Homo sapiens: one gene and its partners. The protein of the gene in region 1 interacts with the protein of each later gene in a biochemical or structural test. Each region holds a gene or a part of one and is shown in the gene's direction. Other genes may lie near its edges.

Region 1 (7,023 bases):
TGAAAATTAACAATAATTATTTTTTTAATCTGCCAAGGGTCTGTCATTCAAAGAATTCTTTAATATCATTAATCATTCTTTTTGTTTGAATAAATGCATAGGAGGCTATAGCTGTGTGTTCTTTCATGGGTACACTATTGATTACACACACAGATGTGAAACACTGTGAATATATTCAGTGCATTCTTCCTTATTAACAAACGTGTGTAAACAAACAAACAAAAAGAACATGTCCATGCCCTTGGATCTCCCAGCTCCCCATCTCTCAGTCTCTGAACTCCAGCAGCAGGGAGACAAACTGGATAATCCTTAAAATACTGTTGTGAAGACAAGGAAAGCAGATGATCTAAAACTAAGTAGTTAAAAGAAACAAGTAACTTTGTTGTATTGGTGATTCAGTGAGTTGGCTCTTCAGAAGGGATTTTGTGTGCATTGACCTGGATCTGTACTGGATTTCTCCAGAAAGGAAACTTCAGCTTATCTTGGGTGCCCCCTTATCCTGCTCAGCATGAGACAGAGCACCCTGGGGCCCCTGGAATCTCAAAGTCTACTTTCTAGAAATTCATTGAAGTCTCTTATTCTCTGACATCCTTTCCACTCTCTCTTTCTGGGTTGCTGTTTGTTTACAATTTCTTTACTGTATTTTGAATGGGGTAGTAGGAGGTTGAGGAAGTAAACCTGTGCTATCAATCCACCATTTAACTTGAAGGTGGTTGAACTTATTTTGAATTTCCCTTCTGTTTTCTTTTTAAACTTAGCTTGAGTGCTAGTTCTGCTGTTTATTGACTTTGATGGCTCTCTTTTAGAGTCAGCTTTCTTCAGATCTTTTCTTTCTTCCTGTCTTCCCCAATGATATTTTTTTCTTTTCCTTTCTTTTTTTTTGAGACAGAGTCATGCTCTGTCGCCCAGGCTGGAGTGCAGTGGCCCGATCTCGGCTCACTGCAACCTCCGCCTCCTGGGTTCAAGCAATTCTCCTACCTCCACCTCCCAAGTAGCTAGGATTACAGGCACGCGCCACCACGCCCAGCAAATTTTTTGTATTTTTAGTAGAGACAGGGTTTCGCCATGTTGGCCATGCTGGTCTCGAACTTCTGGCCTCTAGTGATCCGCCCACCTTGGCCTCCCAAAGTGCTGGGATTACAGGTGTGAACCACTGCGCCCAGCCCTCTGGTGATAATTTTTATGTCCTACTGTGTTTCTCTTCCTCTAATGATTAACTTACTAAAAGTTTAGAACCAAGATTTATCTATCAATGTCAAAAATAAAACAATCATCCTCCACCTACTCAACACCAGAGCTTTTGCTTGTTTTTATTCCCCAATTCCAAGCTCTTTTCCCTCAATTTTAAGAATCTTTCTATATCACTTGCATTAAATTTCACAACTACATTATCAACCCATTAAAATGTGACTCTTAAGTTTGTCTAGATTCAATGCATACCACTATTTCTTGCATTTCCCTAAAAAAGCTGCCTTAGATCCTCTCTGGAACAAAGCAGGGGGTAAATGACCAGATAGAAGGATGGATGGATGATAGATTATTCATTTTGCTTTCCCCAGTCAGAATTAAGCCCTCCCATGGCCCCTTGCTGGGCTTTCTGTCAAAACACGTGCATCGCATCTTTTCAGTATCTGTTTTGCGTGTCGGTCATACTCACCCCTCTGAGTGCTCATTCTCTCGCCTATAAAATAGAAGAAGTAGTAGAGGTGGCCTGTAAGGCATTGGGGAGGAGGAACTGCCCTTTCACTGGCCTCATGACAGCCCCAGCCAGCACCCCCGCTCTAGTTCCACCCACAGAAGCAAGTCTCACCCCTACCCCCCAGGTCTCTCCACTTCCTGCTAGAGAATCACCCAGCTCCCCAGCCTGGCTTGAGGCTCTTTTCAGCCTTAGCTGGCTCCCCGCAGCTAAGAGCCCCATGCTCCATTTGGGCCTCCAGTGTCACAGGGTTTGACCTGCTGTTACTACTACCTTTGTCATAGGGGCAGGTAGTGGGCGGACATGATCTAGAGTACCCCACAGAGTCAGGAGCCCCCATGATCTGAGATAGACCCTAGAGCTGAGCCTGAAATTGGGTGGGCACTGAGGGGGCAGCGATGTTTGCTGAGGGAGAGGTTCTGGTGAGAGACTAAATGAATGAGCGAGTGAGGTAATGGATAAATAAAGATAAGAATGAAAAAATGGTAAGATGATTAAATTGGTGACTGAATGTAAGGGTAAATTAATGGAAGAATGGATTCATGGATTAAATAATTAATGGGGAAATTAATGAATGAGAGAATGAACGAGTGGTTGAATGGGGAAATGAGTGGTAGAGGAAACTGGCAACTGTTGGGTTGGGGGTGTCTATGGGGATTGACTTCTCCAACTCTCTTACCTCTTTTTCTTCTGCCCCCAGTGTCCTCTATTTCTCCATCCACCGCTACGAGCAGGGTAGGTTCTGGCCCCACCTGAAGGCCTCTAACTGGTCCACCACAGGTTTCGGCCAAGGCCAAGGATATACCATCAATGTGCCTTGGAACCAGGTCAGCATCTACCCACCTCTGCCCCCAAAGTGAGGCCCAGCCCCGCCCTTCTGTCAGCGGCTCGGGACAGGTGGCTGAACATCCCCCATCACACTCCTGTGTCTGCAGGTGGGGATGCGGGATGCTGACTACATTGCTGCTTTCCTGCACGTCCTGCTGCCAGTCGCCCTCGAGGTCCTGGGGATCTGGGGTGTGTTGGGAGGAGGAGTGGCCTTGAAGGTTAGGCTGTGAGGGTAGGTAGCCTCATGGAGTCTGTTCCCCCTTCAGTTCCAGCCTCAGCTGGTCCTGGTGGCTGCTGGATTTGATGCCCTGCAAGGGGACCCCAAGGTAAGGCAGGCTCCCTGGGGCGGCAGGTGGGTTGCATGGAGCCAGGCTGACCCTCCATGTCCCCCCAGGGTGAGATGGCCGCCACTCCGGCAGGGTTCGCCCAGCTAACCCACCTGCTCATGGGTCTGGCAGGAGGCAAGCTGATCCTGTCTCTGGAGGTGAGTGACTCACCTTCGTCCCTCAGCCTGTGGATCCTGGAGGGCTTAAGAACGAAGCTTTCAAGTCCAACAGGAGTTCCTGGCCCAGGAATTCACTTACTAGCTGGACAACCTTGCATAAGTCACTTCACTTCTTTGTGCCTCCGCTTTCCTTCTATAAAACGAGCATAATGTAATCACCTCATATCATTGTCCAGTGAATTCAGTGAGGCACCCTTCTAAGTTCCTTGTTGCTTGACATGTGGTATGCACTCTCTTATTATCATCATTATTATTATTCCCTGGTCATGTCTGGTCCTTTCCTGATCCCCCTTCACAACTCCTTGCCCCAGGGTGGCTACAACCTCCGCGCCCTGGCTGAAGGCGTCAGTGCTTCGCTCCACACCCTTCTGGGAGACCCTTGCCCCATGCTGGAGTCACCTGGTGCCCCCTGCCGGAGGTGAGCCCCGGTGGAGGAGGGGAAAGCGGGAGCCTCACTGCCCGCCCACATTCCTTGACATCATATTTTCTCCCTGCCCTGCAGTGCCCAGGCTTCAGTTTCCTGTGCTCTGGAAGCCCTTGAGCCCTTCTGGGAGGTTCTTGTGAGATCAAGTAGGAAGTGGGGTGTGGGCCTGGTGTGGGGTGGACGTGGGATGAGCCCTGGGGGAGACTGTCTTCAGACTTCCTCTGACTTTACTGGGCTGCCTTGGTGGGAGAGGGTCAGGCCCTCTCTCTCTCCCTGGGCCCTGGTTTCAGGCCTCCCACCCCTTTTTCTGTTTGGGTCACCTGAGTTCCAGAGTATGACGGGGATTCAGATTGAGAGGGTAGGACAAACGTGGCCTCCCCCTTTTAGCTGAGACCGTGGAGAGGGACAACATGGAGGAGGACAATGTAGAGGAGAGCGAGGAGGAAGGACCCTGGGAGCCCCCTGTGCTCCCAATCCTGACATGGCCAGTGCTACAGTCTCGCACAGGGCTGGTCTATGACCAAAATATGATGAATCACTGCAACTTGTGGGACAGGTAGGCATTTGGAGGGCTGGATGAGTAGGTGTTGGGGGTCCCTCCCCCTCAGGCACTAAGCCTCTACCTCTCGTTTCCCCACTGCTAGCCACCACCCTGAGGTACCCCAGCGCATCTTGCGGATCATGTGCCGTCTGGAGGAGCTGGGCCTTGCCGGGCGCTGCCTCACCCTGACACCGCGCCCTGCCACAGAGGCTGAGCTGCTCACCTGTCACAGGTCAGACCCCGGTGCCTGGGGTGGGTGGATTCCCAGGACTGTGGATGAGGTCTCAGGGGCTGGAACTTGGGTTTCCCCTCCTGGGGAGCTGCTGCAGGACTTGAGAGGGGCTGAAGTCCCTGTCTTAGGGGTGGGGACCAGGGAGGGGACAGACCCTCCTCACTGTCCTGCGGGTGCTCCTCTCTGTGCTTCCAGTGCTGAGTACGTGGGTCATCTCCGGGCCACAGAGAAAATGAAAACCCGGGAGCTGCACCGTGAGAGTTCCAACTTTGACTCCATCTATATCTGCCCCAGTACCTTCGCCTGTGCACAGCTTGCCACTGGCGCTGCCTGCCGCCTGGTGGAGGCTGTGCTCTCAGGAGAGGTGTGTCCTCTGTGGGCTGGGGAGAGGAGGACCTGGGGGGAATGGAAAAAGAGAGCCATCTGCTGTTTCTGGAGGCTCTGAGAGAGTCAAGCAGGGCCTGAGGAAAGGGGCCATGGGGAGGGGCACGGGAGGGGGTGGGCCTAGAGGCTGGGGGAATAATGGAAGGAACTGGAGAAAGGGAAGGGTGGCCAAGTGCAGTGGCTCACGTCTGTAATCCTAGCGCTTTGAGAAGCTGAGGTGAGCTCAGGAGGTCAAGGCTGCAGTAAGCCATGATTGCACCACTGCACTCTAGCCTGGGCAACAGAGTGAGACCCTGTGTCAAAAAAAAAAAAAGGTCCGGGCGTGATGGCTCACACCTGTAATCCCAGCACTTTGGGAGGCCGAGGTGGGCAGATCACGAGGTCAGGAGATCGAGACCATCCTGGATAACATGGTGAAACCCCGTCTCTACTAAGAAACATACAAAAAATTAGCCGGGCGTGGCAGCAAGCGCCTGTAGTCCTAGCTACTCAGGAGGCTGAGGCAGGAGAATGGCGGGAACCTGGCAGGCGGCGCTTGCAGTGAGCCGAGATGGCGCCACTGCATTCCAGCCTGGGCGACAGAGCGAGACTCCGTCTCAAAAAAAAAAAAAAAAAAGGAAGAAAGGAAGGTGAGGGCAGGCTGTCCGATCTTAGCACCCTGCTGCTTCCCAGGTTCTGAATGGTGCTGCTGTGGTGCGTCCCCCAGGACACCACGCAGAGCAGGATGCAGCTTGCGGTTTTTGCTTTTTCAACTCTGTGGCTGTGGCTGCTCGCCATGCCCAGACTATCAGTGGGCATGCCCTACGGTAAGGACTCCCTGGGGACCCCCCAAATCCTGATCCTTGTGGGGACCTGGATGCTCCCCCCAGCCCATTGTTTACTCATGCCCCATGGTCCAGCTCCCAGGACTTCCTTCCCCAGAAAGAAGTAAGGGTGCAGTCCTTACCCAGAGAAGGACCGAGGATGGAGCCTCTCAGTGCTTATTTAGATAGGACCCCCAGATCATGTTACCTGGGCACTTACAAAACAGGATCCAGGGTCCCACCCCAGCATTTCTGGCCTATAGCAGCTGCCTCGACAGAACCCAGGTCTAGGCTCCTGATGCATACTCCAGAAGACCCACGAACCAGCCCCCAGCATTAGCTGCCCAAGGCCCAGGGTCCAGTTCCCTAGCAATGACCCAGAAGAGCCCAGGGCCCAGCCCCGAGCACTTGCTCAGGCCTACCGGGCAGCCCTTGGGAACCAGGATCAGACTTTTCTCCTTAACTGATAGGACCCAGGGTCCTGCCACTCAGCACTAAATGCCCCTGCAGACCCCAGGGGTCTAGCCCAGCCCTCTTCCAGGGCGTGAGTATCGTCGGTTACTGAGGTGCTGTCTCCTCCCCAGGATCCTGATTGTGGATTGGGATGTCCACCACGGTAATGGAACTCAGCACATGTTTGAGGATGACCCCAGGTAAGGGCTGCAGTCAGGGGCCGCAGTGTGATCAGGGAGGCGGGTGAGCACCTCAGGGGTACTGGAGCCCCTAACCAGCCATGGTCCGCTTCCCACCCCCTCCCTGGCAGTGTGCTATATGTGTCCCTGCACCGCTATGATCATGGCACCTTCTTCCCCATGGGGGATGAGGGTGCCAGCAGCCAGATCGGCCGGGCTGCGGGCACAGGCTTCACCGTCAACGTGGCATGGAACGGGCCCCGCATGGGTGATGCTGACTACCTAGCTGCCTGGCATCGCCTGGTGCTTCCCATTGCCTACGAGGTACAGCTCAGGATAGATCGCAGGACGTATGTGACACGCCTGTGCAGGTGGCAGCCTGGACCTGCCTCCTTGGCATGTGTGTGTGTGACTACCATGTGGCTGATGATATGAGACAGCGCATGGGTGTTTAATGAGGCTACCAGGGCAGTTGGTGGCTGTGATCACCTTGTGTATTTGTGCACAGATGGCTGTACATGACTGCCTTCTCTGTGTGACACTGTGTGAGTGACTGTCTTGGCTGTGTGTGTGAGGGCCTTCTGACTATGCACCAATGGCCCGTGTCCTGGCTGGATCTGTGTTGTATGTGCGTGCCATCACAAGTGCTTGAGTATGTGCGTGTGCGACTCTGTGCAGGCAGGTATTTCTCACCTTTTCTCTGTGTGATGGGTGTGATACTGTATGTCACTAAATGCAACCATCTCTGTGACAGCCTGTGTGGGACCTTCTGGATGTGGAAGGCTGTGTGTGACAGCAGTCACTGTCTGGCTGTCTGCCCTGGCTGTTTGTGTGTATGTCTCTGACTGGGAGGTAGCTGCCTTCCCTCTGTGTGAGCTAGGAGGCTGGTGGCTTGTGTATGGCTGACTCTGGGAGGGAGGGAAAGGGTGTGAGCACCGCTCTGTCACCCTGGGCGCCGGTGTGCATCTTTGGATCTGC
Region 2 (7,023 bases), on another chromosome or scaffold:
GTTACAACACGGTGGTTTCTGTCACTCTTTCCCCAGAAAAATGACCCACGTGTTTCCCATTTGTGCTTGTTATTTAGAAAGCCAAACTTGGCCCTGCTGGCAACAAAGTCATCAGTCCCTCTGAAGACAGGAAACAACCTTCCAACAACCTTGACCGAGTGAAACTCACGGACTTCAATTTCCTCATGGTGTTGGGAAAGGGGAGTTTTGGAAAGGTAAGAGGACAGTCGTCTGCAAATTGCAGGGGCTTCTGCAGAGAATGTCGAATCAGTTTTGTTCTCCTCGTAGTTTGCAGAATAGCACATTAGATTTCCCTGTGATTCAAGGTCAGGAGATCAAGACCATCCTGGCTAACACGGTGAAGCCCCATCTCTACTAAAAATACAAAAAATTAGCTGGGCATGGTGGTGGGCGCCTGTAGTCCCAGCTACTTGGGAGGCTGAGGCAGGAGAATGGCGTGAACCTGGGAGGCGGAGCTTACAGTGAGCCGAGATCGCACCACTGCACTCCAGCCTGGGAGACAGTGAGACTCCGTCTCAAAAAAAAAAAAAAAAAAAGATTTCCCTGTGATTTGTACAGTCATCCAGAAGACCACCAGGATGGCTAAATGGTAGAAAGGAGAGGTTTATTGGTGGTATCAGTTTGCAAACCCATAAAAGAAAGTCTATGGTGTGAAATGAAGGTGCCCTCTCTTTGAGGAGAGAAAGGGCAGGTTGGGTTTTATGCCTCACAGGGTCCATGTTACACAGTAGAGTCATCCATATTCAACAGGTTTGGGGGGAAAGCTTGACTTATCTGTGAGGGAAGCCTAGCACAGGCACAATGGATGAACATATATGTAACATGCATCTTATGTTCACTTTGGGGTGGGGACTTAGCATTAAAATGAGGTGGAATTTGCCTAGGCATGGTGGCTCATGCCTGTAATCCCAGTACTTTGGGAGGCCAAGGCAGGTGGACCACTTGAGGTCAGGAGTTTGAGACCAGCCTGGCAAAAATGGTGAAACCCCATCTCTACTAAAAATACAAAAATTAGCTGGGTGTGGTGGTGTGCACCTGTGATCCCAGCTACTCGGGAAGCTGAGGCAGGAGAATCGCTGGAACCTGGGAGGTGGAGGTTGCAGTAAGCCAAGATCATGCCACTGCACTCCAGCCTGGGCAACAGAGGGAGACTCCGTCTCAAAAAAAGTAAATAAATAAAAAAAGGTGGAAGTTGGCTCTTTAGATCAAAAGGTGAACCACAGGACCCAAAAACAGTTTGTGTGCAGGCTCTGCAAGCTGCTGAAACTGGCTTCAGGTCTGCAGTTGCATCACAGAAAAGAATGTTTGTAAGGCCAGTTCTCTGTCCAGTCCAAGTCATAGTGATCTGAGTTGTCAATCAAAGTTAGGAGGGGCCTGATAGCTCCTACTGCTAGGGAGTTTAGCGAGAGTGGTTTATCTTGTAGCTGTAGGGATTTAGAAATTTGCCATGCCAGCTGGGCCCTGAACCCTCAACCCATAGATAACTATTTCCTTAACTTTAATGTTACCAGAAAGGGGTCCTGATCCAGACCCCAAGAGGAGGGTTCTTGGACCTCAAGCAAGAAAGAATTCAGAGCGAGTCCACAGAATAAAGTGAAAGTCAGTTTGTTAGAGAAGTAAAGAAATGAAAGAACAGCTACTCCATAGGCAGAGCAGCAGCATGGGCTGCTTGACTGAGTATACTTAGAGGTATTTCTTGATCGTATGCTAAACAAGGGTTTTATTATTCATGAGTTTTCTGGGAAAGGGGTGGGCAATTCCCAGAACTGAGGCTTCCTCCATCTTTTAGACTATATAAGGTAACTTCTGGGCATTGCCATGGCATTTGTAAACTGTTGGGGTGCTGGTGGGAGTGTCTTTTCACATGCTAATAATGCATATAATGAGCAATGAGGGTAGCCAGAGGTTATTCTCATCGCCATCTTGGATTTGGTGCGTTTTGGCTGGCTTCTTTACTGTATCCTGTTTTATCAGCAGGGTCTTTCTGACCTGTGTCTTGTGATACTAGCCCTGCTGACCTCCTATCTCATCCTGCGACTAAGAATGCCTGACCTCCTGGGAATGCGGCCCAGCAGATCTCAGCCTTATTTTTCCCATCCCTTATTCAAGATGGAGTCACTCTGGTTCAAATGCCTGCGACATTAGGGTCCATCTTAGTCGCTAAAGAGGCATTTATTTGGTCTCTCAGATCAGAGTGCACAGTCCTCACCTGGTTTCTACTTCCTTAAAAGCAACTGCATCCAAAAAGCTATAGTGGGTTCACTGTGTTGTTACTATTTCTCAGTGTTCAGAACAGAAGGGATGCTCAGAAATGCTGGTTGATGAATAGTTTTCACAACTAAAAATTAAATGTTCACTTGTAGTAAGCAAATACAATCATTAAGAGATACTGACATGGGGTCTTCAGCAATTTGCCTGTATCTCCATTCGGTTTCTGTGGCCCCACATTTCATAGACGCAGGAACTGATTTCAAGTCTAGGTTCTTGACTTGAGAGATTATAAATGTCAGTCAGCTTTCACTCTAAGGATACTCCTGAAAAATGTGCATTATTCCAGACTAATCCTGATAGAGAATGTTGAGTATTCATTTTAGCAGCCAAAATAGTGCCATTATGTGGCAGTGGCCTATACCATTTACAAATCTTGGCAGCATTGAAGTTTTGCAAATGCTGGAGGGACTGAATTTGTAGTGATGTGTAGAATTTACAAATTTGCACATAAAGTTTAATATTTTTATGTTCCACATTGACAAAGGTGCACAAACTGTCACTGAGCCGTCACCTGGCCTGGTTCCTTCCCTCTGCCCCCCAAGATATGTGCTTACAAGTGTTCAGGTTGTTCTTGACGTGTTCTCAGGTGATGCTTGCCGACAGGAAGGGCACAGAAGAACTGTATGCAATCAAAATCCTGAAGAAGGATGTGGTGATTCAGGATGATGACGTGGAGTGCACCATGGTAGAAAAGCGAGTCTTGGCCCTGCTTGACAAACCCCCGTTCTTGACGCAGCTGCACTCCTGCTTCCAGACAGTGGTAAGGACCCTGGGAATCCCTGCGATGCAGTACCCAGCTCTCAGAGCTACGCCTCAGCCCAAAGCTTCTTAGCATCCTTGTTCCTTTGGAGAAGGCTGGAGAAAGGTGTGTTGTGATGTCAAGCAGAGGTGACTGGGGACCACCTCCCACCTCTCTCACTGGTAGATTTGGGGCATGCCTTCTCTGTGATGTCCTCTGCTTGGCATTCATGCCATTTAATTCGGCAAACATTTCTTTTTCTTTTTCTTTCTTTCTTTCTTTTTTTTTTTTTTTTTTGAGACAGGATCTCACTCTCTCGCCCAGGCTAGAGTGCAGTGGCACAGTCACGGCCCACTGCAGTCTCAAGTAGTTGAGACCACAGATGTACCCCACCACACTCAGCTAATTTTTGTATTTTTAGTAGAGACGGGGGTTTCACCATGTTTCCCAGGCTGGTCTTAAACTCCTGAGCTCAAACGATCCCCCTACGTTGGCCTCCTAAAGTGCTGGGACTACAGGTGTGAGCCACTGTGCCTGGCCTTAATTCAGCAAACATTTCCATGAAAGGTTTTCTTCATGCCTGGTACTGTGCTCAGACTTTGGGATACAAAAACAAACAAACAAAAAAACTCACAGTCTTGGCTTTTTTTTTTTGAGACGGAGTCACTCTCTCTTCCCCAGGCTGGAGTGCAATGGTGCGATCTCTGCTCAATGCAACCTCCACCTCCCAGGCTCAAGGGATTCTCCTGCCTCAGCCTCTCGAGTAGCTGGGATTACAGGCCGCTGCCACCACGCCCGGCTAATTTTTGTATTTTTAGTAGAGATGGGGTTTCACCATGTTGGCCAGGCCGGTCTTGAACTTCTGACCTCAGGTGATCCACCCGCCTCGGCCTCCCAAAGTGCTGGGATTACAGGCATGAGCCACCGCACCTGGCCACAGTCTTGGCTTTTTAAGACCACTGGTTCCACTGCCAAACATGGCATTGGAGCATAAGGAGACTTGATTTTGTAAAAGAGCATGTTCTTGTTCAATGCCACACAACAGGGACTGGCAAACTGTGGCCTATTCTCTATGGCTTGTGAGTTTAGGAAAGGTCACAACAAGGAAATCCAAAGAGTCATATATCGTGACACGTGAAAATTAGGTCAAATTTTAAATTTCAGCATCCATAAACAGCTGTTTTGGGACATCACCACACTCCTTCGTGTACCTGTCATCTACAGCTGCTTTTGCACCATGAAGGCAGAGTTGAGTTGCTGCAAGAGACACTCACAGCCTAAAATATTAATACATACTGTCTGGCCCTTTGTGGAAAAAGTTTGCTGAGCTCTGTCGTAAAGTAAAACTAAACAGAGGACAAAAAAGGACATTCCAAAGCACTAATCAGTCCGTTGCAGGGCTTGCAAGTGGCCTACAAGAAACAGACATGGCCGGGCGCGGTGGCTCACGCCTGTAATCCCAGCACTGTGGGAGGCCAAGGCGGGCAGATCACGAGATCAGGAGATCGAGACCATCCTGGCTAACACGGTGAAACCCCGTCTCTACTAAATATACAAAAAAAAAAAAAAAAATTAGCCGGGCGTGGTGGCGGGCGCCTGTAGTCCCAGCTACTCGGGAGGCTGAGGCAGGAGAATGGCGTGAACCCGGGAGGTGGAGCTTGCAGTGAGCCGAGATGGCGCCACTGCACTCCAGCCTGGGCAACAGAGCAAGACTCTGTCTTAAAAAGAAAAAAAAGAAACATAGATGTTTAGATGCCACCATAGTGAGACGTTGCCAAAGCTGGTCTTTCCACTCCTCAGAGGCTGCCCATTTAAAATATGACTCCATAATCAGTAGCTGTAATTGATGCGATTATTACTATTTTCAACTGCCCATTGATCAGAGATTGACTTTCTGTCTTATGCCTCTTTGAAAACTCTTGGGAGGAACCTCTCAGTGCTTTTGTGTTTTAGAATCTCAAAATGGCTTTGCAGCCACCCGGAGCCTCTGGGTGTGTAGCAGTGGCCGCGGAGTCAGGCGCCGGCCACTACGTGTCAGCCTAGCGCTGGCGGCACGTTGAGCTTCCTGCTCCCAGCCGTTCCCACTGACTCTGAATCAAGTCACGCCAGGGAGAGATGAGAGCAGCATGCTCGGAAGAGACAACCACAGCTCTGAATCCCAGCCCAGAGCCTGTAACCCTGGTTACCCTGATTAAGCTCTGGAAAGCTACAAAACAAAGAAATGAAGATGAAATTAAAGTTCATAACAGGAAAGCTAGAGACTGGGGCTCCCAGGGTTGCTTCCTGGCTATTAGCACCAGCTTCATCATTTTTTTCTCCCTGTGCAGCACTTTAATGTTTAATATCCTCTGTGAAATGGGGATGTTTTCTAGCAGAGAGCAGAGGTCATTATTTCACTGTTAAACCCCTCCATCTTCCTATCTGTCCCAGCATAATGTCCTCAGGAATATGCAGATTTATTTGGGTCTATGATACATGCCCATCATGGGGCCAACACTTAGCCTACCAGTGACAGAGAAAATAGAAAAACAGTGTTTGGGCATATTACAGATGCAAAAGAACATTTGATTAGCATCTCCATCTAGAGTCCCCTGTCCCATGTCCAGTAAATATATTGAGCATGTGTAATCCTAAGCCTGAGAGATGTGTTTTCAGGAGTATCCATTTAAACACGATACTACATTAGTATGGCACGCCTCCCAGACACTGCAAACCAGCCTTTAAACATTTGGACCATGGAGAAGCACTAGTTAAAATGAAATAATTGCCTTATGTGGATTCCTCACACCATCCCTTACTTAGAAATTTATTATATGTATAGGAAGATAGGGAAGAATGTTCAAGGCCGTTACTATAATAGCATATGTAACAGGAAGGCACGTTGATGGAGAGCCATTATTTCAGGGTTATGTAATGACTTTATACTTCCCAAGGCCCTCATGCAGTAGGGTTTATTACTTATTCTTTCTTTGGAAAAAAATGTGAAAGAGCTCTAAACTGAGCACATCTGCCCATGCAGTCCCCATTTAACTAATGAGAAAGCAAAACACAACCTGTGAAGAGCAAAGGAAGCCACTTGGCTGGGGAGGAGCCCTGCTCATGTGTTGAACCTTGGTCTGCAGGATCGGCTGTACTTCGTCATGGAATATGTCAACGGTGGGGACCTCATGTACCACATTCAGCAAGTAGGAAAATTTAAGGAACCACAAGCAGTGTGAGTATTATTTTTTAAGTCCTTTAATTTGAACAACCAAGTCCTACCAACTGGAAACTTCCTTTTTTCCCCCCCGCTTGAGATTGGGGGTCTCACTCTGTCACTCAGGCTTTGCCTCCCAGGCTCGGGTGATTCTCCCACCTCAGCCTCCTGAGTAGCTGGGACTACAGGCACACACCACCATGCCTGGCTAATTTTCTGTTTTTGGTAGAGATGGGGTTTCACCATCTTGCCCAGGCTGGTCCCGAACTCCTGAGCTCAAGCTGTCTGCCCACCTCGGCCTCCCAAAGTGCGGGGATTACAGGCGTGAGTGAGCCACCATGCCCAGCCCCAACTGGGAACTTCTGCTGGGTGAAATGGGAAAGTGGGATTCTGCCCAGTTTTAGGTTGAATGTTATAAACCTAAACATGGGAGGCGGAGGGCAGATATACTGGTAGGATCCATCTAAGATGGTTCCTAAGGAGCAGTTTATTCTATTTCCAGTATTTCCAATAAACTGGAGATGTTGCCATATCCCATCATCACCCAGGTCCACCCTTGTTGATGGAGTTATTCTTATCTGTTGAACAAATGGTTATCACACACCTGCTCTGCACCAGGCACTGGGGTTGCGAAAGGAACGAGGTGCTCCCTTTCCAGAGGGAGTTTACACTCCACCCTGGAGGTGGAGAAGTCACCTAACAATTAATAGTGCGTTGCTGTAACTTTAGAGACTTGCGCAGGATACCAGGATAACACGTAAGCCCCTAAAAATCGGGGAGAGGGAAGTGCAACCCC
Region 3 (7,023 bases), on another chromosome or scaffold:
ACTTCCCAAGGAATGCTTGCCCTCGGGTTCTGGTGGAATCCAGTCGGCTGCCATCAGAGTGTCTTTCTCCGCAGAGACAGGTTCTCCCTCGGGCTGTGCCTGCATGAGGCCATCGGGTGCGAGGGAGATGGGGAGGGGGCTGCACCCCTTCAAGGATGAGGAGACTGAGGCACAAGCAGCTGTCCTACCATGGGCACTTGCCTGCGAGCGAGCTCTGGGGGTCAGCGGGTGCAGCTGGAGAAGCTGCTGGTGGCTTCTCTAGGGCAGGTGGAGCTGTCAGAGGTCACACCCTGGCCTGGTCCAGCCCAGCACAACCCAGGGGGCCTGCAGGACACTTGTGACCAGGACAGAGGTTCTCAGGGAGGCCAGAGCCTGAGCAGGGCCGAGGGCTGGCTCTGAGGTCTCAGGCCCCAGGGAGGGGTGATGAGCTGAGGGGTGGTAGCTCCCACTGACTCCATGGCTCCTGCCTCCAGCTTTGACCCAGCACTGCTGATGATGTGAGCACAGCCTGTCCACCAGCCTCCTCTGCCAGCAAGGCTCAGCCACCCCACAGCCATCCACATGGAGAGCAGTCGTGTAGGCTCTGTCGGCGCCACCCCCGCGTGGGCGTGGGCAGTGAACAAGGGAGCACCGAGGCTGCTGCTACCTTTAAAACAGCAGCTGGCCCTAGTGAGAGAGACCCCAGGCCCTAGTTACAGGCTCCAGGCCCAAGGGGCAGACCCCTGGCGCTAGTGACAGACCCCAGGTCCTAGTAACAGGCTCCAGGCCCAAGGGGCAGACCCCTGGCCCTAGTGACAGACCCCAGGTCCTAGTAATAGGCTCCAGGCCCAAGGGACAGGTCCTGGCCCTAGTGACTGACAGGCCCCTGGCCATAGTGACAGACCCCAGGCCCTAGTAACAGGCTCCAGGCCCAAGGGGCAGACCCCTGGCCCTAGTGACAGACCCCAGGTCCTAGTAACAGGCTCCAGGCCCAAGGGGCAGACCCCAGGCCCTAGTAACAGGCTCCAGGCCCAAGGGACAGGCCCCGGCCCTAGTGACTGACAGGCCCCTGGTCCTAGTGAGAACCCCCTGGCCCAAGTGCGAGACCCCTGTTCCTAGTGACAGAGCCCAGTCAGTCCTAGTGCCTGGCCCCGCTTACTGATGCCACATGGACACCCGGGTTTCCAGCCCCTGGACAGCTCTGTGATCAGAGGCTGGGGCTGCTGTTTCCCCAGCCCTGTCAATTCTGTTCTGGCAGGTTTTCTGTAAGTTTGGCTTTGGGCAGTCCAGTGTCCAGTCTGAAGGCGTTTCCCAGGAGATTCATTCTGACAAATGGGGCCCAGGTGATTTTCCGTGGGGCCTCTTGGGAACAGGGACAGCCTGTGGGGTTGGGGCCAAGGTGGCCTGCGGTGTCTGGGACGAAGCCCCGCCTAGGTGGCCGAGTCCTTGGAGCTGGTGACACACCTGGGACAGGCATTCCCTGGCCTGCGAGGAGGCTTCGTTCCCTAGGACAGCCACCCTCTGGGGTCTGCCTTTGCCTGCCCCACTCTGAGGTCTGTGGTGCCACCTCTGCCCTCATCTTCTGTCCTTTCCAAGCCTTTTTTGAAGATGCCAGTTGGACAACACAGTCTTGCCCACACCCGTGGGTGAGCCCGTAGGTGCCATCCTCCTGACTCCCTGGGGAGGCGCTGGGGGTGGGTGGGAGTGGGGTGGGCTCAGCCTCCAAGCAGGTCCTGGCCAGGCCCCACTTGTGGTCCCATAGGGTCTGGCCAGGGAAGGGGCATGTGCTGTGAGCAGACACCTGGGTCAGGTCAGGGCTTGGCACGTCCCTCCTACCAGGGAGGTGCCGGCCAGTGGGAGAGGGTGCAGGTGCACATCTGGATGCAAGACACAGGCCTGGGAGTACAGGCACAACTGGGATGGCGGGCACAGGCCTGGGAGTGCTGGGCACATGTGGGATGGTGGGCACAGGCCTGGGAGTGCAGGGTGACCCCCTGGGGGCTCAGGGCACACGCGTGGAGATGGTGGGTACACGCCTGGGAGCTTGTCCTTTGACCCCAGGTGAGCAGTTTGTCTTCCTGGAGTCTCTTCTGCTACACAACCTTCTTTTCCCTCACGGTGAAAGAGCAGAGCCTCTGGGGGAAATGGTGTGAGGGTCTGCACCCAGGGCTCAGGTGTGCTGTGCCCAGAAACTGGGAAAGTGGAGGACACCTGGCCTCTGCCCATCCAAGGAGAAGCAGCTGGCACAGCAGCATGCCATGCTCGGTGGAGAGCGCCAAGGGAGAGGCGCCCACCCAGGCTCGTTGTCCGTCTGACACCTCCATGTTCTCTCAAAATTAAATGTATTCTTATTACCGTCATTGTGGAAACAGCACGTGGGTCTAATGAAGCGATCCAGACAGTGTGGCTCCCATCTCCTCCACTCCTGCTCCGTGTCTGTGGCCCGTGTCCTGCTCCTCCAGACCCAGCAGCAGCCTGGCTGACTTCCCACAGCGGCACGTCGTGCCTAATTCATTGTCATTTTTAGTTTAAAAACCTTTTAAAAAATATTTTGTTAAGCTAATGCATGTTTGAGGTAAAACAAAACTACAAGAACCTAGAACAGTGAAGCTCAGATGGGCTCTGAGGCGAGTCCCCACGTGAGACCCCTCAGCACACACCCCACGCAGAGGCGGGCTTTGGAAGCATTTCTGGCAGCTGGCGTCTGAGGTCGGCACTGCTCCACCCCTTGGTGCAGAAAGGCTGGGGCTGAGTTGGGACGGGTTCCACTTTTCCCTCCGGAACTGCCTGGGCCTGGTTCTCAGCCCTCCCAAGCGCCCGTGGACTCACTCCCGTGTGACGGCCATGGGTTCCTGCATCTACTACTTCTTCTCGGCTGTTGACGGCTGTCACCCTCGTCTTCCTGGGAAGCCCAGTCACCAAGCACCTCCGCAGGGGGTGTGGCCACGTCTCTGAGGTCACACCCACTGCAGGTGGCCTTGCTCCCCTCAGCCTGAGTGGGACAGTGGACGTGGGTATCCAAGTCCCAGCCTGAAGCATTTTTCCTCAGAACGTTTGAAGGCAGTGTCTGTCTTCAGTAGATCCGGCGATGGCCTGACCCCTGTTCCTTTCTGCCCTCTCCCCCACGGCCCCCACCGTGCTCTCATGCGTGCCATCTCATGCTGCTTGCTGTGCTGAGAGGGGCTGAGCCTAGCACAGGTGGTGCCTGCCCAGCAGGGGCGCAGGGGCCGCGGGCCGGACCGTTCTCACGCGTCGTGACTCCCACCCGTCCGCATCTCTGCTCACGCACATTCTCTTCCGCCAGGTCTGAAATCGCCTGCTGGCCTCCCTCTGACCTGCCTCAGTTTCTCCTCTTCACTCCTCGCTGCCTGATGTGTCATTGCTTATTTGTTTATCACTTGTCCCAACTGAAGGCCTCATGAGGGCAGGACGTTTTATGTCCCGCTCAGCCCTCCAAGGCCAACCTCCAAGCTTATCAAAACCTCATGCAAAGCACGTGCTGATGGGCTGGGAAGTCCTGCGTGAGCCCTGAAGGTGGCTCTGAGGGGCTTCCCTCATCCCTTTGCTCCCAGGCGGGCCCCACGGGGTGCAGGTTCTCAGATGACTCTCTGAGGTGTGTGAATAAGGGTCTCTGTTCAGGCGCGTCCCCACAGGAGATGAGACCACAGAACGCAGCCCTGAGTTTGAAGCATCCCAGAAGGTTCTTTCTCTCTGACCCGCACACCCACCACTGTTCTGGGTGCTCACAAAACCCACCATTGCTTCTGGTAATTTCTCAGCTGCTCCTCCTGTCCAGCGACCCCTGCTGCAGAGGCCCAGGGGAAACACAGACCAGGCCTGTGAGAAGCTCCTGTTTCAGACAAAGAAATGGTGTCAGCGATAAAACTGGAAACTGTTCCCAGCTCGACACCTGACCTGGCCCTTCCACCCCCAGGATCCTGCCCCCAGGCGGCCCTTCCACCCCCAGGATCCTGCCCCCACGCGGCCCAGCCCCCACCAGGATCCTGCCCCTGCATCCTCCGCTGGGTTGGCATCTGCATTTTTGGTGCCTTCCAGGGAAAGGGGTGAGTGGGTGGGGCCTGAGGCCCTTAAGGTCCTCAGTGGAGGGAGTGCCCCTGGATTTTTTTCTGGCTGTTTTGGGGGAATTTGTGGGATCTCAGGGTCAGCAGCGGCCACACTCAGGACCCCACGATTACAGAGCCACACTTTGGCCATGACTGGCGCTGAGAACTCCAGATCTGAGAGGGCTTCGTGAGTCCCAGGGTTGGGACACCTACCTGTGTCCTCGGCACGGACCCTCCCACCGGCTCTTGTGTCTGTGGGCAGAGGCCATGTTCAGCTCTCAGTGCAGTGCTGACGGCCCACCTGGTGTCCAGGCCCCTTTGGGAAGCAGCTTTCATGCCCTGAGTCCAGCACCTCAGCCTTGAGTCCTTCAGGGCCTGACTGGGTCTTACCGAAGCCCATGCATGGTAGGGAGGTGGCCTCGGCAGCCCTGCCCTGTGGCGTAGCCCTGCGTCCCCAAGCCCTGCCTGGGTGGCACCCCTCAGTCTTCTCAACCCCATGGCCCAGCCGCCTACTCTGGGGGCGGGCGCCTTGCAAAGTCCAGAGGGCGTCCCTGCGCCCTGACACCGGTGCCCCCACCACTGCCTCAGCCCTGCACACTGGCAGTCCCCTCCCCTGGCCGGGGCCAGGCCCAGGGCTCCTGGGAAGAGCATCCTGAGGCGCCCCCAGGGCCACCACGCACCCTCCCCAGCCTAAAGCTCCATCTAAGGTCAGAGGCTCTGCAGTGGGGAGGGAGCGGCTGTCGCACGACTGCTGTGGACCCTCCCAGAGGAAGGCAGCACGTCACAGACCCTGGGGAGTGCGTGATCCCGAGGTGTCCTCCAGAGCTGCAGAGCGGGCGTCCACAGGAGGGACAGTGGAACTGCGGCGGGGAGGGGACCCGGAATAGGCTCTGATGCTGCCAGTCACACACTGAGCCTCCTAGGCCTGGAGCCCCTGGCACCCAGCTCAGCTCCCACCCTGGGCTCTGCGTGCTGCTGGCTTTATTTGGCTTAGGGGGTCCTTGGCCCAATGATGGCAGTGGGCAAGGCCTCGCTTGGCTCCACTCTGCCCGGGGCTGGACATGCGTGCCTGCGGGGCAGCTGGCTCCAAGGGTCTGAGGGGCCTCACGCCCAGCCCCAGGAGGGCCTGCCCATCTCAGCCCTCGCCACGTCCTGGTGCTCATTGGTACGGCGGGGTTTCCTGGGCTGCACCCGGCTCAGCTGGGACATGGCCCGGGTGACACCTTTCTCCTCTCCTTCCTCCATAGCAACATGGCTGACAAGGCCAAGCCTGCCAAAGCTGCCAACAGGACGCCCCCCAAGTCCCCGGGGGACCCCTCGAAGGACCGGGCAGCCAAGAGGCTGTCGCTGGAATCGGAGGGTGCTGGTGAGGGGGCAGCCGCATCCCCTGAGCTCAGTGCCCTGGAGGAGGCCTTCCGGCGCTTTGCCGTGCACGGGGACGCCAGGGCCACCGGGAGGGAGATGCACGGCAAGAACTGGTCGAAGCTGTGCAAGGACTGCCAGGTGATCGACGGCAGGAACGTGACCGTCACTGACGTGGACATCGTCTTCAGCAAGATCAAGTGAGTGCGCTGGGCTCACGGGCCGAGGGACCTGACTTACGGGGGTCTGCGGCCCTGAGCCCCTGGGTGGGTTCTGTGGGGAGCGGGCCATGGGGAGTGGAGGGGGTTGTGCTTCAAGACCCCGCCCTTCTCAGAAGCAGCCCTGACATGGGAGCCTGAACGTGCCATCTGGGCCCCCAGGGAGCAGGGGTCCGGGCATTGCCGGACTTCTCGGTGCCGAGGCCTGAGTGGCAGCCCTGGCTCCTCTCAGCCCCGTGGGTGTGTAGGGTTTCGGCATGGGAGGTGGCCTATGAGGGGATGTCTGGCCTCAGAGCAGACTCGGGGTGAATGCTGCTCCCCGGAGTCAGGGAGCTGTGACTGGGATCACTGGGCTTCCCCAGGAGTGGGGGCAGTGGCTGCCTGGAGCCTGGAGGGGCAGGTGGCTGCTGGCGGGCAGAGCTCCTGACCCTCTGTGGGCTGGCTCAGCGGCTGAGTCTCAGAGGTTGGATGCTTGTGTCCCCATGCATGGAGCTGGCCATTCGGGTGTCCCCCAGCCCCTCCCAAAGCCTTTGTGCTGCTGTATTTCTGCCCCAGGATTCCCACGGGCGGCAAAATGGCAAAGGGCACCAAGGAGGCGGCTCCGGCCACCACCTTGAAACCGCATCGTGCCGTTTGCTTTTTCTGCGTCGTGTGCACGTGTGCGCGTTTCTGTGTGCACGTGTGTGCGTTTCCGCGTCGTGTGTGCACGTGTGCGCGTTTCTGCGTGTGCACGTGTGCGCGTTTCTGCGTCGTGTGTGCGTTTCTGTGTGCACGTGTGCGCGTTTCTGCGTCGTGTGCGCGCGTGCGTTTCTGCGTCGTGTATGCGCGCGTGCGCGTTTCTGCGTCGTGTGTGCATGTTTCTGCGTCGTGTGTGCGCGTTTCTGTGTCGTGTGTGCACGTGTGCGCATGTGTGCATGTGTTTCTGCATGTGCACGTGCGTTTCTGTGTCATGTGTGCACACGTCTGTTGCCGTGTCACGCATTGTCTGTTTTCTCCTGGATGAATGCTGGGAAGCACACTGAGGCACCCTCACACGCCCCAGCACATTTCACCTCATGTCCCGACACCCCACCATGATCGCACCCGAGAAAAGCAGCGGTTCTCCCTGAGCCCCGTCCTGTCCGCCTGTGTGGCAATGGCTTTATTTCGGTGGTTTGCACCTGCGTCCTCCTGTGGCCGATGTATTTCATTCCTACATTGCCGCAAACTCATCACCTCTTTCATCTCAGAGCTCCTGCACCTTCCCCCTCTGCGGCCTTGGCTTTGCAAGGGGCCGGGCCGTGGGTCAGATGCCCCTGTGTGGAAGGCTGTGGGGCCCACCTCTGCGGCGCCAGCGCCCCATCTACCAGCTCTGGGTGGGCGCCGTGACCTTTGCAGCTGTTCCGTCTCTGCTGTGCTCC

What was found.
Region 2: the proteins of HDAC6 (region 1) and PRKCA form a complex in vitro, tested with the Homo sapiens proteins (2 studies listed by BioGRID, with this or other methods).
Region 3: the proteins of HDAC6 (region 1) and TPPP form a complex in vitro, tested with the Homo sapiens proteins (2 studies listed by BioGRID).

The regions. Positions count from the first base shown.
Region 1 is NC_000023.11:48,812,044-48,819,066, forward strand, and holds part of HDAC6 (protein deacetylase HDAC6), read left to right. Parts: intron 1-2,396; coding exon 2,397-2,523; intron 2,524-2,631; coding exon 2,632-2,697; exon of another isoform or gene 2,698-2,790; coding exon 2,791-2,850; intron 2,851-2,918; coding exon 2,919-3,008; intron 3,009-3,340; coding exon 3,341-3,447; intron 3,448-3,531; coding exon 3,532-3,599; intron 3,600-3,840; coding exon 3,841-4,009; intron 4,010-4,097; coding exon 4,098-4,226; intron 4,227-4,421; coding exon 4,422-4,590; intron 4,591-5,282; coding exon 5,283-5,416; intron 5,417-5,997; coding exon 5,998-6,066; intron 6,067-6,176; coding exon 6,177-6,369; intron 6,370-7,023.
Region 2 is NC_000017.11:66,732,611-66,739,633, forward strand, and holds part of PRKCA (protein kinase C alpha type), read left to right. Parts: intron 1-77; coding exon 78-215; intron 216-2,878; coding exon 2,879-3,052; intron 3,053-6,153; coding exon 6,154-6,245; intron 6,246-7,023. UniProt on the Homo sapiens protein: Calcium-activated, phospholipid- and diacylglycerol (DAG)-dependent serine/threonine-protein kinase that is involved in positive and negative regulation of cell proliferation, apoptosis, differentiation, migration and adhesion, tumorigenesis, cardiac hypertrophy, angiogenesis, platelet function and inflammation, by directly phosphorylating targets such as RAF1, BCL2, CSPG4, TNNT2/CTNT, or activating signaling cascade involving MAPK1/3 (ERK1/2) and RAP1GAP.
Region 3 is NC_000005.10:676,332-683,354, reverse strand, and holds part of TPPP (tubulin polymerization-promoting protein), read left to right. Parts: intron 1-3,412; exon of another isoform or gene 3,413-3,846; coding exon of another isoform or gene 3,847-4,043; intron 4,044-5,290; coding exon of another isoform or gene 5,291-5,294; coding exon 5,295-5,605; intron 5,606-6,738; exon of another isoform or gene 6,739-7,023.